Regions from separate parts of the Homo sapiens genome. Here region 1 is linked to region 2. Evidence: fine-mapped expression QTL. Tissue or cell type: whole blood. Region 2 holds a variant in brackets; the other region holds the start of a gene. All regions are shown on one strand. Distances are from middle to middle.

Region 1 (8,107 bases), 140 kb after region 2:
TCGGGTTCTATAATCATGGACGTGGGTCTCCAGTGTGGTATTACAAAGGTTTCACTTTAATCTACGCATGTTTTCAGTGTTTTTGAACAGTGACTAAGTTGAAGATATTGAAGTGAAGCTTATTAAATTTGACAAAGTGTGGCTGAAATATGATAGCACATGGAAAAAACACTCAAGACAATTCTGATGCCTAGAATTCTGGGTTGAAGCTAGAACATAAAATTTAATAGAAACACTTCTAAAGCCCTTTGTTTAAGTGGGAGGGAAGGAGATGCACCAAATCCAAACAGGGGAGATAATGACTTGGCAATTCATGTAAAATAAATCTGTAAGCTGCAATTAGTCAAGTTAGCCTGAGCCAAAGATATGAGGTGGTGGCTTATAAAAGCAAATGTCTTAAATTGAATAGGGGTGCAAATGATAGAAAGTAATAACATTATTATAATGTGTCAGGCCACATATAAAGTAACACTGCATATATTCACTATACTTTCATTGAAACATATTTATTGGGTTGCTAGTATGCTCTAGTAGACATGCACTCCTCTACTTAAAGGGATTCCAACTAGTAAGGGAGAAGAGCCATGTACACACAAGGAAAGAAACAACAACATAGGCTTCTACAAAAGCAATAAAAAAGGAAGAGGAAGCCAACTTGTATTTAAAATCTACTGTGTATCAAATACTGCTTTACATATTTTATTTTATTCCCACAACACCCACATAGTGTTGATACTATCTTCAACATCTTGGTGAAAAAAAAGAAGATCCAAAAAGGATAAACAAGTTTAGATGAAATCAAGATATCACCCATTGAGGGATCAGGAAAGTTTTTCTTGCAAGAGATTGTATTTGAACTGAGTCTTGAGAGACAGAATGATTCAAATCTGTGAAGAAGAAAAAAGCATGACAATAAATATGAAGGCAGAAAAATACTGGATTTTTTCAGAGCACAGTGAGCAATTTGGTACAGGCAAGGGGGAGTATGGGAAACAAAGCGTTGGAAAGGTAGGTTGGAGCCAAATTGTGAAATATGTTGACTGTCAGGCTAAGAGTTTGAAATCTATTTGCTTAAAGGCTGAGTGGCTTGATGATGAGACTGAAATAGACATAATTTTGAGGGAGAGAGCATCACGGGAAAGAAATGGTTCAGGTGAGAAGCAATGAGGGTCTCCACTAGGGAGTAGATGTATGAAAGAGGGTAGAGGTTGGAAAGATATTTAGAAAAGTAGGAGGGATAGGATTTGGAAAGTAGTGGGCCCAAGGAGAGAGAGGCATCAAAGATGACTCTACACTATTAAGCTCGGACAAGTGTAAATATAGTGTTTTTATTAATCAAAACAAAGAAAATAAGAGCAAAGCATAGACTTAAAAAGTAAATGACAAGTTTATTTCTGGACTTGGTGAATTTGTGGTACTCATGTGTGGCACTTAGTAGGCACTCAATTGTCAGCTTTCAATAAATTTATCCAGATCATTTTGTCTAGCATAAAATTTTTGATGGGGAGAATATTTTAAGGTATTGTTGTCAAATAACGTTTGTGTAGAAGACTTTATACAGGATGGAGAGAGCCCAGTACATAGAAATATTTGCAGATCAAAACTTAAAGAGAAGAAAAGAATTGTTGAGTTTTGCCTAGGAAAGGGAAGACCAAGAAGGACAATAGGTAGACTCAAATATTTGAAATATTATCTTGTAGGAAGCCAGATGGACTTGTTCTAGATTGATCCAGAGAGCAATTTTACTGTAATTCCATTAAAGTCTATTTTCTGTTACCAGAAAAGATTAAAGATGGAAGAAGCCTAGCAAGGAACTCCAAGGAATGCCTCTCCTACAAGGAGGATCTCCTAGTGGAGTTATATAAGATGAATCATGAGTAAATCTGTAGCAGAAAGTTCACCTATAATAAAGGAGGCTAGGGCTTCTAGAATGAGGCATTAGCAAACAGTGTCAAATTCTGCAGCGGTGATGGAAACTAAGCACTGGAAAACAGGGTCTTATGGTTGGCATTCAGAATTATTTCATCATTATAAAAATTTAGTTGAGAGTCTAGGAGGGACACTAAATTGAATTGGATTTAGGAGTGAGGGGTAATGAGAAAATGGAGTCAGGTGGTAAATAAACTTGACAGAAAATAAGTTTTACTTAGTCGGTACAGAAGGTTAAATCATATGATGAATCACTTTCAATAATGAAGACATGACTGCATATTCAGTTTTTAAAGGAAGAGCTCCATAAATTTACCTGGATTCAAAGAACTGTAAAATTTCCATTTTTAACAAAAAAAAAATGGGTTGAGAAAGAACAAATGTTTTATTAATATCTTAAAAGAGAAAACAGGCTTTTATATTTATCATAAAATATACTTTATACTAAAGATGAAAACAAAATACAGGTCAAGGAGAGCAACTGAAAAAGTAATATTCAAAGGCTGATTAAAAATTTGTCCATTGCTGCAGGCTGTGCCTACACAAGCAAATAGAAGTAAAAAGTTAAGCAATTGCCTAACAATGTGTTCAGCAAATAGATGGTTTTAGTAATTTAAACCATATATATAGCAGTTGAAATATCAGTATTTCAGGCCTAAATTTTTCAAACAATTGGCCAAACTTTCCATTTTACTTGCTCTGTGAAATGAAGAACTTGTCTCATTTCAACAACAAATCCAAAGTTTTTGAGGATATACTGTTAAGTGTGCCAAGTCCTGCTTTTCTACTGATATAGAGCATAATATGATATGAAAATATTGTTAATAACAAAATATTATTAAAAACAAAAGTCCCCAGTTATAAAACTGATTCATTCACAATTACTAAGGTGTTCAAAATACTCAACAGTTATAGATAAAATATGCATTTTCACTTTCTCTAAAAGCTGGAAGAGCTATTCACAACAGACACTGTAATGCCTAGCTCCAGAGAAGCATCATTTTAATATCCTGTTTATTGGGAAATAGAAAAAAAAAGAAATCTGAGAAAATTTAGATTAAGTTACAAAACCATATATTAAAAAATCCATATAAAAATAGTTAAGAAAAAATGAACTTTCAAAAATAAGTAGAATGTAAAATTGGGTAGTGGTAAAAGTTATTTGAAATATATTATACCACAAAATTGGGTAAAATAAACAATGCACAGTTTAAATATCAGGATCAATATATATAATGATTAAAATATTTAAGTGTCTTTTAATACTACTGATGCAAATGATAAAATATTGTCTTGAGCCATATTCACTGGAATAAATGGTTAGGTACTTTGGCAATGAGTAACTTGGTTGAAAGTACATTTCCTTCATGGCAATTGTCAGGCACCAAGATTTCTAAGTACTGATGAGTCATAAGATTGGGCCAGGGGTGTTCCTGTAGATATCAAATAGCCCAAATCTCATGAAGTTGCTTTGTAATTGGCAACTAGTAAGTAAAAAACAAAGTCTTCCTATGATCAGTACTTACAAATCATATCTCCGTAAGCAGTTAAGCAAAGATGATAGTATTTTTATACCTGATATGCAGCCTTTCATATTCATGAATATTGTTAGTGATGTTTATGTCTTCTGTGAAATAACCTTACTAGAGATATAAAAATATACCTTTCAGATAAAATCATTTAATCATGCAACAATGCACAATTACAGAAACTAATGTTAAAAAGTGTGTACCCATTAAAGAAAGAACCTCCTGTGTTTTATTTTAATCAACAGGTTTTTCCTCTTGTTTATTTCTCTAGTAATGGTATTCCAAACAATAAACCTGAAATAATAACTATTAGAGTGGAATATGATGTTCTAGGTAGAAAGTATTTTAGCACTGGTCATTAGATATAATAATCTCTACTGCTAATGATGACATTCATAATTTCATGAAATAAGACATATAAGAAAACCCAAGCTTAAAAAATAATGAACCATTCCATACATATACACACTCCACACAAAATATAAAGATTATATCCCAGTAAAAGAGAGAAAAGAAGCATTATTGAAACCACATCTGCACAGAGGTAGTTAATCATTAAGAATCGAATGTGTTGGAATAAAAGGAAAACCTTAAATTACAAACCTAGATGTCTTCATCATGGTGAAATGCATAAATTTCAGGGCTTTCCAGAGATCCCAGACCTTAGGATCTGCCAGAATCCACCCCTAAACCCTCAGATTTCAACCTTAAGAGAATTTCTCTCTTAAGAGAATCTTTGGATGGCTCAAGGACTCTGACACTCAATCCTTCCAACGCACTGGGAAACCTGGTCTGAAAATTCTCCAGATATCTCATTAAAGAAACCTAGACCATCATCATCATTCTGCGTTGTTTGTTTCCAGGTCTCTTTCTACGCACTAAACCGAAGAAGCATGGAAACTTCCTACAAAACATTATGGGAGAAGCATCAGCAATCTGCACGTACACAACACTTTTCCCCCGCCTGGCAGCCGCATCAGCAGTGGCGCTAGCATTAGGGGTGCTGTTTCTCCTTTAGAATTTGAACTTATCAGACCTACTGGCTCCTCCACCCACCGCCCCACCCCCCGCTCTTTTGCTTCAGAAATACAAGAGAATGAGGACATGCTTCTCATCTGGACCTGCATTTGGAACGCTGTCAGTTAATGCGGAGGGAAGGGGGAGAAAGTTACTTCGCAGACAGCGATGTCTCACCTTCCATGCTTGTTGCCATGGAGATGAAGTCCAGCCAGTAGACTTAAGTGTTGGCACGTTTGTCTGTGTTCGCTGATCGGTTCAGTAACAAATGTAGAAGGCGTGTTCTGGAACCTGCGTAGAGTCACAGGGCCCTGGTTAGCGCTTTCCTGGCCTAGAAGTGTAAATGTCTGTGTCTGTTGGTGAGACAGAGGACGTGGGCGCCCGCCGAAGTACGTGTGCGCGCGCGCGTTTGCAGGAAAACGTGCATGGATTTCTTCGGTGTGGCAGTGTGTAAATATTTGCGCTCGCGTGTGTCTGTGGCAGCATCTGTGTGTGTATGTGAGACTGAAAGGAGGTGGGAGATGAGGAGGGGAAGGGAATCAGCTCCAGCAGCAACAGGCTCTATTCTTCAGTTCTGCTAAAAGAAAGAGGAAGAGAGGAAGAAAAAAATAGACACTCCTTTTTTTTCTCACGACACACCCTGAAGGTTAGCAATTAGATTTCATCATTATCTTTGTTTACTAAGGCAGTGAGGGTTTAATTGATTTACTGCTGAAATCCTTGTTTTGCTCTCTTTGCTGCATTCCTGGCTGTGCTGCGGGCATTTTGCTGTGCTTTGGTGACAGCCGTTTTCAGTAGAACAGTAGGCACTAAATTCTTACACGTTTCTTCTTATCCGGTAAGGAAAATTCAGGAGTGAAAGGTGTATTGATTTAACTGGAGACTGAATGTGTCGTTTGGAGTTCTTTTCCTCTACTCTTTCCCTTCTCTCTTCCACACAAACACAACTGAATCCCCTTCCGTTTCTAGGAGAAGGCGCCTAGGCGCTGTCCGTAGTGCTGAAATGGTGCGTGGTGAGACCTGTCTCCCCAACACAAGCTAGAAGACAACAAAATAGCAGCCAGGAAACGCTCTGATAAAGCTCTAGATAGCTGCCAGGTACGTTTTCTAAACAGTGTTGAATATGTAGATTCTAAACCTAACCGACGTTGAAAGCAAGGTAAAGCAAAGCAAAGCAAAGGAAAACAAAAAAACAACAACAGAAACCTTGCTCTTTATCCTTATTTTAGGGGTCTGGCCGTTTCAACAAACTCAGTTACAGGGTTCCCAATTCTATTTATGTTTTGCGACTCTATCCAGAACCTACAAGTTGCAAGCACTTTTAGATTCCCTACAATCTTAATTATTCACCTTATAACTACTGGACTGTGAGTCGTTGGGGGAAATGTAGATACAGAATTGGGACACTCATCTAAAGAAAATACTTTGAAAACGTAATGTAACTGCAACTAGATTCAATAACAAAGTGAAGACAAACTTCATGATTATTTAGAGTATTTACTGATTTAGGAAATGTAATGGTCTTACAAAAAAATGGGCAATGTATAACTGAGAGTTCATATAAGACCACATTTTTTAAAAGTTGTTTTTTGATTTTAAACTATTAAGATGTCCTAAAATGTAGGTGAACTAACTGCCCTCTATGAAAGACTGAAAGACATATCTTATTCTAGGGACATTTCCATGGCCATGGTTTTATTGACCCTTTTTAAACTTGCCAAGGGCCACATTCTTTATTAGCACTCTGGGCTGGAACAGTGCTTCTTGAAGTATAACATGCATATGAATCTTCAACGATCTTGCTAAAATGCAGACTCTGATTCAGTAGGTGTGGGGTTGGGTCTCAGATTGTGCTTTTCTGACAATTTCCTAGGTGATGCCAGAGATTACTAGTTTTGGGACCAATTAAAGTAGCAAGATGCAGCCAGGAGTGGTGGCTTATGCCTGTAATCCCAGCACTTTGGGAGGCCGAGGTAGGAGGATCACCTGAGGTGAGGAGTTTGAGACCAGCCTGACCAACATGGCGAAACCCTGTCTCTACTAAAAATACAAAAATTAGCTGGGTGTGGTGGTGGGTGCCTGTAATCCCAGCTACTCAGGAGACTGAGGCAGGAGAATCACTTGAACTCAGGAGGCGGACATTGCAGTGAGCTGAGATTGTGCCACTGCACTCCAGCCTGGGTGACAGAGCGAGACATTGTCTCAAAATAAATAAATAAATAAAAATAAAGTAGCAAGATGCTAGAGATATTGAATTCTGGCAATGCAGTCAGTCATAGATTGTGGGAAAGGAGATCATTTTATTCCATCTATTATTCTATGTATGTTTCCAAACTGTTACAAAAATAATTTATTCAAAATTAGTTCAGAGACTAATCATGTAAACATTTTGTCTGTACAGTATGAACAATTTTTTATGAATTTGATTCCTTTGATTTTGATTTTGACATTGTCTGGACCAGTGGTATAGTTGAGTCTGTATTTCCATACTATGATCTATAACCATTCATTCTCTTTGCAGGCCGAGCTCAAGGGAGCAGAACTAAGTTACATGATTCTGCTGCGGATGTATAAGCACCACTCCAATAATTTATTATCACGGTTGGAGACTTTGACTTGTCACTTTATGACTTGAAATATGGCTCCATGGTAAATGCCCATAAAGCTGATTTTTAAAATCTGGATATTACAGTTCTAATTCTCACTTAGTTTAAAAGGTAGAATAGGCTTCTTGTTTCATAGATCATTTGTGTGAATGTTGATTTGTTATGTCATTGACATCATACACACATGCTTACATTTTGAAGGTTGCTAGCGTTTCCCATTAATGCTTCTGAATTGATGCCAAAGGAAAGCATTGATTATAAATTAGGTTCCTTGGTATTAGTTGGTGCATGACCCTGACCCTTTTCAAGCTATATGAAAGGTAATGATGCTCTCAAAAGCCTGCAAAATGGCTTATTCAGGAAAGCATAATGGATTAAAAATCCATTAGGTTCCACTTTCTTTGCTAGATGCTGAGATACAAAGATAAATGAGATTTGGTCTCTGCCCTCGAGGAGATACGTGGCAAAATAATATGGTAAGTTCTACAAAGTTCTATACAAACACAGATTAATATGCTATTCATGTTTTATTAGCCATTGCCAAAGAAGGGATGAAGAACTGCAAAAAGATAAAACACAGAATACTTGTACTTCAGGTCCTTGCCAATATCTACTGCCCAACTTTTACAAAAAAAATTGCTGAAAGGCATGAAATATATGAATGCCTTTCTAAAGCACATGTGGATAATCTATACTTCTGGAGCATCTATGATTTATTTTCAGAACAATCCAAGTTATTAGAAAGGTAAATATGTTGGTGACATTGTTTAGAAGTTCCTCAAGCAGAATTGCCTTTACTATGCTTTGACATTATGCTCTCAGCTTATATACAGTAATTCTATGTGAAACAGTAGCCAGCTTACACAACCTGCTCTATATCTACTACAGAGCTGTTACTAAAGTGTTGGTCAACATATAACTTACTATTTCTTATATAAAGATGCCCAAGAAATTTAGATTTCATAGATATATCCCCAAAAGCATTTCTTTCAATACCAGTTTAATGAATTGAACTTTCATACCTCA
Region 2 (8,107 bases):
TACTGATGGGATAAAGGGTCAGTATGTAAGGACCACATAAGTGGGGTCTGAATCCCAGTTGGAGCGGACCTGAAACAAGGAAACCACATCAGGAAAGTAGAAATTTCCTTACAATAAGAGGAGTAGCTCTGTATCAAGAGTAGTTAGCAGAGGACACTGAGGGTTCTTCATGAAAGGTACCACATGAGGTAGGGTTAACTTTGAGACAAACATGAGAAAGGCTTTATTATAAGGGAAACAGGTAACACAGAGGACTGTCTTAACAAATTTAGAGAAAAGTGTTTTCTCTCCTGACTTCAGGGAAAGATTTTCTTCTTAAATTTTGCTAAAGACAGATAGCTCTCTTATGAAGAAAATTCTTACAAGATAGACCTGTGTTTTCTAGAACTTTTGTTGCTTAAATAATTACTTAATTATTATATCATTAAATCTGTCATTATTAATTAGGTAATCATTATTTTAAAAATTAAGTTAGTAGTTAAACAAAATATAATTACTTAAAATAACCACAAAGCTTTTCCTCCTATTATAACAAGCTTTCCTCTAATCATTTTCTTTTCTTAAAAATAAAATCTGTCATTTGAATATTACCTTTTAAAGACAAAGTAAATACTTGCAAACATTTACAGAATAAAAAAGGAAATATATTACCTCCTACATCAATAAAGTGTTTTGCAGCCAAGCCTGACCGTGGAGCTAAAAAACAAAAAAGGAGACATTGGTTATTTTAAGGGGGAAGGGCTATATCAGAGATAACTGATGCAATTTAAGCATGTCATTCTCTTCACCTATAATATCTATATCTTCATCTTAACTTTAGCACATGGTTTTGAATTAAAGAATATATATTCATCATACTGCATTACCAAAGTTGGAAAGACTAGTTTAGAAAAATTCCACAAGGTTTTAATTCAAAACTAACTTAAACCACTCCCATGTGACTTCAGTCAGAATTTGTGGTGCTGCAGACAGGGGAGAAGGACTGCTAGAATGAGCTGAAAGGTGAGCAAGCGGGAACAACTGTAGGCTGCTCTTTCAAGAAGTTAAGCCTCAAAGGGGAAGAAAGAGAAGTATGGCCAGCAGGAACACACTACTGAGGAAGAAGACTTTGGTTTTAAGATGGGACACCACAACATGTACAATGCAGATGGGAAGGGAAAGGAAGAGGAAGGGAGAGGGAAACAAACCTAACCAAATAGTAGCAGACCATAGCCTACAACTTGGGACCCCACTATTCATGATTCAGATGCCAAAAGACATGCCTGTAGGAAACACATGAACCAGAGTAAGATAAATGGGCTAATATCAGTTAAGTAAAAATGCCAAAAACTAAGTCTCAATGATTCAATGCTAGTATACTTTTTAATCCTAAAAAATGAAAAAAATAAAAAGCTAAGGTTACACCTTATTATTGCAGACTCAAGCATCAGGCCTATAATTAATTATCCTAACTTCCAGCATTTTATTTTAGAATAATTTAAATCAGGCACTTTGTCAATAATGCTGCCTCTTTCTGTACTAACCTTTATTTCACTCCATCTCCTGCCCCTTCCCCTGAAAAAATTCTAAAAAATGGAGTCAATGATGCTCAAGAGATGAGATGAGAGCCCATCTTGTTATCTTTTAAGGGCTGAAGTACTGGCAGTTTCCTCACTCATGGCTAATAATATAGTGCCAGTCTAGCTCCTTTCCCTGGAGGAGGGCGTCACAGCTCCATTGCCTCCTTTATGTTTACTCTGAAGTTAGTCAAAAAGAACTTACGCTCTTGCAAAGAACTGTCTGGTAACAACTGATCCGCTCCAGAAAAATCAAACCTGTTGACGTGTACTCCATTTTGTCCTAGCTCCTCCCAGTGCCTCTACAACACTGAAGAGTATCCCTTACCCTAACCCCATGGCCAAACAAGAAAAGGTTAAGTAGGCTTACACATTCTGGGACCAACAGGTCAGAAGTTTTACTCTCATAATATAAAATGCCATGTTCTGAGAACAGCCTTCTAGGCCAGTGTGAGCCTAAAAGCTCCAGTGAGGAAGGAGAAAAATAAAAGGGTCAAAAAGAGGCAAAGCAGAGATGTAAATAAAGCCTTTCAAAGAGTGCATTTGCTATCACAAATGGTGCTTCTTTTAGGACACAGCCCAAGCAATATTGCCTGCTTATTACCCCAAATGAAACATGAAGAATCTATCACAAAGGAGAACTTGACAAATAGTTACCTGTTTCTTAAATGACTTACCCACTCTTCCATAACACCCAGAAGGGAGCGCTATCTGAATGTCCGTTTTCACAACAGCTTTCTCCATAGGTGGTATTGTGTAATCATAGGCACTAAGAAAATATTGAAAGAAAATAACTGCAAATCTATTTATAAAATTGTTTTTATATTTTCTTTGTGACCAAGCATACAAAATTACTTTCAGTGTATTTAATGAATTAATGCAACTTTAGTTTCTAAAATCAACCTTGCTATGATGAATTACCAATTCATCTTAAAAGTTTATGAAGAAGGTAGAGGTGGCTATTTTATTATTAAAAAGACAGCTTTAGATAAAATAATTCTCCATGAATATTTTTGGTGGTGTGAAGAGATGTCAACATTGTAAATGTTTGCCCCTGAACAAAAGTTTATTGGAAACTGAGGTACTTATCAGCGTGAAAGGGCAGAAAGGCAAACTTTCAAAAGGTGGATGCTTTACAACCATAGTTTGAAAAGGAAAAAAATGAAGAAAGAACAAAGAAAAAAGGCCAAATACTACTAATAATACTAGCTATCATTGATTAAGCCTTTACTGTGTGCCAGGAACAGTTCTAATTGGTTTACATATATTAACCCATTTTATTCTCACAATGATCTGTGTGATTAGGGAAAATATGCAGAAGGAAAGGAGAAAAACGGGTGGACAAAATAAGAGATAAAGAACTGTGTTGTATCTGTCAGGCAGGGCTTGGTAGTTTACCAAGCTTAGGCTATGAATTTCCTGGCTGAGGGAGACAGCTGATCACCGTGAACGGCCCCTGGAGATGGACCTTGCTTAGGAACAGAATTCCTCTAAAGTCCACATAGCAAATGCTGCTACTCTTGATATTACTGTGGCCCTCTCCTGGGTAGAAATTTAAGAGATTTTACAATGAGCAGAACCGGAAGTTTACTTTGGAGACCTTAATTAACTCTGGTAAAGCAGTACTACCCCTTCTTTCACTGAAATCCCTCTTTAAACAGTTAAGCCCTAATTTATTGCTGATCCATTATTTCCATGTCAATTTCAGTATACAGAAAGTCACCTGTGTTTATTAGGAGTCTACTTAAGGTATCTTAAATCAAGGACTCCCCTAGGACTCAAGAAAGTGCTCCAAAATATACTTTGGAAAGGTCTAGTCAAACTATATCACTCTACTTTTATTCATCAAAATTAAGAGACTGTAGTTTTTCCAGCTACAATTGTCCATACCTACTTTCCTTTTCCTTTTTTTTCTGTTGCTATCATCAGGCACTACTTTCTCTTCTCCTGTGCTTAGACTAATAGTTCTCATGTTTGAATTATCTGAGATACTTTAAAATAAATCCCAATGCTTGGGATTTAGTATAAAATCTCCTTCCCTCTCAGCATTACTTTTCTCCTACCTTAATGGTTCTAAGAACTGGGCACAGTAGTCAGATGAAAAAAAAAAAGCCCAAAATTCGGGATAAAAAATTATATCATCTTCAAGCCTCTGGGGAAATCAATTCAGCTCTTCACAAACTCCTGCCTGTGTAAAAAGTAACACTTATCTAGTTAAGGATTGTTGTGAGGACTAAATACAACAGCATACGGAAAGTTTTTAGTACAGGTAAAACGTGCTGTAGAGATGAAAGTGTGGTAGATTACAGGCAGCTCTGCCTTTCGTTTTCAGATGCCTTCTCAAATTCCGCCCTGGGCCGGATGAATGTATAGAAAATAACTTTTT[A/C]AGGCAGATGCATCTTCGTTCATCCTTCTTAGGTATTTTCACGCTCACATCTAGGCTCTCACCTTGGTTTTTCTATTGAGCACAGCATCACCCTCGGGCCACTCGAAAGCCACCATGGGCCTTCCTCTCTATCTTCTATTTAGGAAGGGCACAATAAACGTTGCAAAGTAACGCCTTGCTAGACACCGTATAGCTATTTTACTTATTCTGCAGTCTTTGCCCAAATCTCTATTTAATTTATGCCAAAGATGAAAGCTAAAATTTTAAACACGAAAAAGGCAGAAATCCTATTTATAGCTAGTGTGTTCCTGTGATCTCTCCGGTGACTGTTTCTAGCTGTGGCAGCGGACGGCCGGCCCTTCCCAGCCTCCTCGCCGGCAGGTCCCCGCTCACCTGTACAGGTCGTAGCCCGCGGCGCGCGCGGAGCCCCGGGTGGGGGCCGTGGCGTGCTCGGAGAGCCGGGCAAAGCGGAGCTGCATGCCGCCCACCTCCGCAGGCCGGGCCCGCTTACTGGGTGAAATGGCGGGTGTCTCTTCAGAGCAGGGCATGGCAGAGCCAGAAGGCGAGCGAGGAGACCACCGGGGGAAGAGGAGAGCGCACGATGAGCGTCGCCGCAGGGAGCGCGCCAAAACCGAAATTTCCCGCCAGCCCCGCCCCACCCACCGCCCCTCCCCGGGACGAGTCCACAGTTCTGGCTGAGAGGGGAGGCGGGATTCACATTTTGGGTTTGAAGCCCTTCTCGGAAAGCAGGTTTGGGATGGGAAACTACTGGGTCCCAGTCAACTTTCCACATTCAGCGCGTGGGGCCAACTTTGAAGGGGAGCTTCTAGGGCGTCGCCCTCACACACTAGAAAGCCGCCCCCTCGCCAGGGGACCCTAATGGACCACCCCACCCCCCCCGCCCCCCGCGCGCAGAAGGACCGCTCGCCACCCTACTTCCCCCACAGCCTCAAGCCGCGTGGATTCCTTCCAGACGGCCGGAGCCCCTCCCCCGCCTTTCCTACCCGGCCCCGGCGCCGGGCTTCCCCCCGCCTTAGGAAGCTCGCCCTTCCAGCCAGCGGCCCCGACTGTACTGGCTCCGCGGCAGCCTTGGCTCAGGCGGCCAGCGCTGGACAGCGGCCGGGGAATCCCGTGCTGCGCGGCGCGGCCGAGGGGCGGGCCTGGCCCGGAGAGTACCGCGGCTTCGGCCCTCTGCCGTGCGCCTCGCGCGTTTTGCATCGCTGAGCGAAGCAGAGACGTAAGGAAATGGTAGCAGAGCGCGGGGCGAGGGCAGAGGGGAGTCATTTCCCCCAGAGTTTGGGCTGGTTGGGTCCTCGGCACCTCCGGACGTGCGCCAGGCTTCCACCCTGAAGACGCGCCCGTCCTGGGAACATGACCTCGGAAGCAGTCGCAGCCGCCGCCGGACGAGGGGCGTGGAGAGGCGGTGCCCCGGCAGCCCAGGGATGGCGCAGGCCCTGGGGCCCCAGGAAGACGGCGCCGTTGGCGTCTTGAGTCTTGCTGCCGCCTCTGGCTGCCTAGCCCTCTTGCTTTCGCTCTTCTTGTTTGCTCTGGCCCCCATTTTTCCGAGAGTGTACGCCAGGCCCGGGCCCTGCTCCTGGACTGATTTACCTGGGGCGGCACCGCCCGCAGCCATGACTCCCGGGCTCTGAGTTTAGCGGCGCCCTAAGCGCCGGAACCGCATCTCGGCGCCGGTGACAGTTATTGCGCCCGGGGCCGCTCCCCAAGCTGTGGGCAAGACACCGCGCCCGATTTCCTTTCAGCACCGAGTGTCAGACGTTGTAGTGTTTATTCGACCGGAGGCAGGGAGGGCGCTACTATCCTATCACAGGTTTGGGATAACCCAACAGAAACGCAGTGGGAACCCCTTGGCTAGGAGTCGAACAAGGATCCCGGGTCGTGGTAGTATAGTTTACAGTGGGGGATAAAGCAGTAACTTTCTAGATAGTTGTTAATAATTTTTTCTGAGCTGCAAGTATCTCCTTATTTCTCACAAAAATCTGCGAGCTGAATTGAATGGTTTTGAATTTTCAAAATTAAAAAAGCTGTGGGGCAGTTTTAGAGTATTATTGGGGAAATTTTACATTCGTTGCTATGCCTTTCCATACAGGCCCCCCCTTTTCGGTCTCCTTAACTGGTTCGTCTTCGTAGTTGGAATTCCTTTGCATGAGGCTATGGAATATACACTACCTTCTCTGGACGTTAACTATTAGCTACAGCTTGAGGACTCCCAAATTTATGCCTTTAGCAACACGATCCGAGCCCTGCAACTTTTCGACCTCATTTTGAGCCAACATTATTTTGCTCCCTTATTTTGTTGAAGTACTTTCTCCAGTTATTTACTTAAAATGTTCACATGAGAGACATACTATTTGATTCCTTGCTTGTACTAAGATGTAATGATTGTAACGACTTCATTTTCCTAGACCCAGATAAAAGTCTCGCTTCATTCATGAAACTTTTTACAATCAGTAGTGACCTCTGCCCCATCTTATCTCTTTTAACACTTACTATATCATTCATTAGTCGTTAGCCATATACTTTCATTGTGTAATCTTCTGATGTATATGCATTTTATCTCTCACATGAATTAGAGTCATAAACTTTTATGAATTCTTCAAAGCACTTACTTCAGTGTTTACACAAAAGTTACTTGTTTGGCTTATTACAATATCTAACACCAAGCAGGTTACCTTCTATTTTTTGTTGTTAATCTGTATACATAAAGTGTTTATTGTTACTTTTCAGCTGAGTTTATTTTAGACTAAAAGAGAAACGGCCATAATCTAACTGGCAAAAAGTAATAGGATTCTGAGCCAGTAAGCATTTAATAGAACGTTCTTTATGACAATAGAAATATAACTTGTTATGAACATACACCTTAAATGCAAGATACTGCAGTTAAGAACTAAACATGTTTCAACCATAATTTACTTCATAGTTTTTGTTTTTTTTTTTGAGACAGAGCCTTGCTGGAGTGCAATGGCTCGATCTCGGCTCACCCCAACCTCCTCCCAGGTTCAAGCAATTCTCCTCCTCAGCCTTCCAAGTAGCTGGAATTACAGGCATGCGCCACCACGCCTGGCTAATTTTGTATTTTTAGTAGAGATGGGGTTTCTCCATGTTGGTCAGGCTGGTCTCGAACTCCCGACCTCAGGTGATCCGCCCACCTCGGCCTCCCAAAGTGCTGGGATTACAGGCGTGAGCCACCGCACCCTGCCCTTCATGGTGTTTTCTTTATCAGACTATAGTTATCCTATCAGTCATGCTGATTAATTCAATTACCTAAGTCTAGTGCCAATTTGAACCTTCTGAAAATGCAAGTCAGTACTTGAAAAGCATGGTTGTTTTTCCTATCTTTGCCATTTTGGGGATTTCTCTCTCATTTTAACAAAGATACACATTGTTACTACTTTATGTCAGGTGTATTCTAAGTGCTTTAAAAAATATTAACTCGAGGCCAGGCGTGGTGGCTCACACCTATAATCCCAGCACTTTGGGAGGCTGAGGCGGGCGGATCACCTGAGGTCGGGAGTTCGAGACCAGCCTGACCAACATGGAGAAACCCCGTCTCTACTAAAACTACAAAATTAGCCGCATGTGATGGCACATTCATGTAATCCCAGCTACTCGGGAGGCTGAGGCAGGAGAATCGCTTGAACTCGGGAGGCGGAAGTTGCGGTGAGCTGAGATTGCGCCATTGCACTCCAGCCTGGGCAACAAGAGCAAAACGACGTCGCAAAAAAAAAAAAAAAAAAAAAATTGGCTGGGTGCAGTGGCTCACACCTGTAATCCCAGCACTTTGGGAGGTCAAGGTGGGAGGATTGCTTCAGCTCAGGAGTTCGAGACCAGCCTGGGCAACGTAGGCAGACCCCATCTCTACAAAACATATACAAAATTAGCCAGGCATGGTGGGTGGCAGGCACATGTAGCCCTAGCTACTCAGGAGGCAGAGGTGGGAGGATCACTTGAGCACAGGAGTTGGGAGGCTGCAGACAGTTATTATCATGCCACTGCATTCCAGTCTGGGCAACAGAGTGAGACCCTGTCTCAAAAAAAAAAACTCGTTTAATCATGACAACTAGAGGAAACAAATTCTTTATCCCCATTTTACAGATGAGGATACCAAAGCACAGAGTGATTAAATAACTTACCCAAGATCACACAG

The links. PIP is the estimated chance that this variant, and not a neighbour inherited with it, causes the effect.
Region 1: CTXN2-AS1 starts here. The variant in region 2 is fine-mapped to the expression of CTXN2-AS1 in whole blood (INTERVAL, PIP above 0.99).

What each region holds. Positions count from the first base shown.
Region 1 is chr15:48,188,399-48,196,505 of GRCh38, reverse strand. It overlaps CTXN2-AS1 (CTXN2 antisense RNA 1), which reads left to right and starts at 4,797. Exons shown (of 3, transcript NR_184082.1): 1 at 4,797-4,921; 2 at 5,445-5,573; 3 at 6,997-8,107. CTXN2 (cortexin 2) reads right to left here and starts at 4,841. Exons shown (of 2, transcript NM_001145668.2): 1 at 4,653-4,841. RefSeq lists an enhancer at 4,334-4,837.
Region 2 is chr15:48,328,635-48,336,741 of GRCh38, reverse strand. It overlaps DUT (deoxyuridine triphosphatase), which reads right to left and starts at 5,313. Exons shown (of 7, transcript NM_001025248.2): 1 at 4,947-5,313; 2 at 4,336-4,474; 3 at 2,234-2,325; 4 at 652-696. The coding sequence starts at 5,226. DUT-AS1 (DUT antisense RNA 1) reads left to right here and starts at 4,886. Exons shown (of 3, transcript NR_186809.1): 1 at 4,886-5,179. RefSeq lists enhancers at 4,536-4,830, 4,754-5,278, 5,279-5,805 and silencers at 4,536-4,830, 4,881-5,090, 7,084-7,274. The variant A/C (reference allele first, on the strand shown) is at 3,943.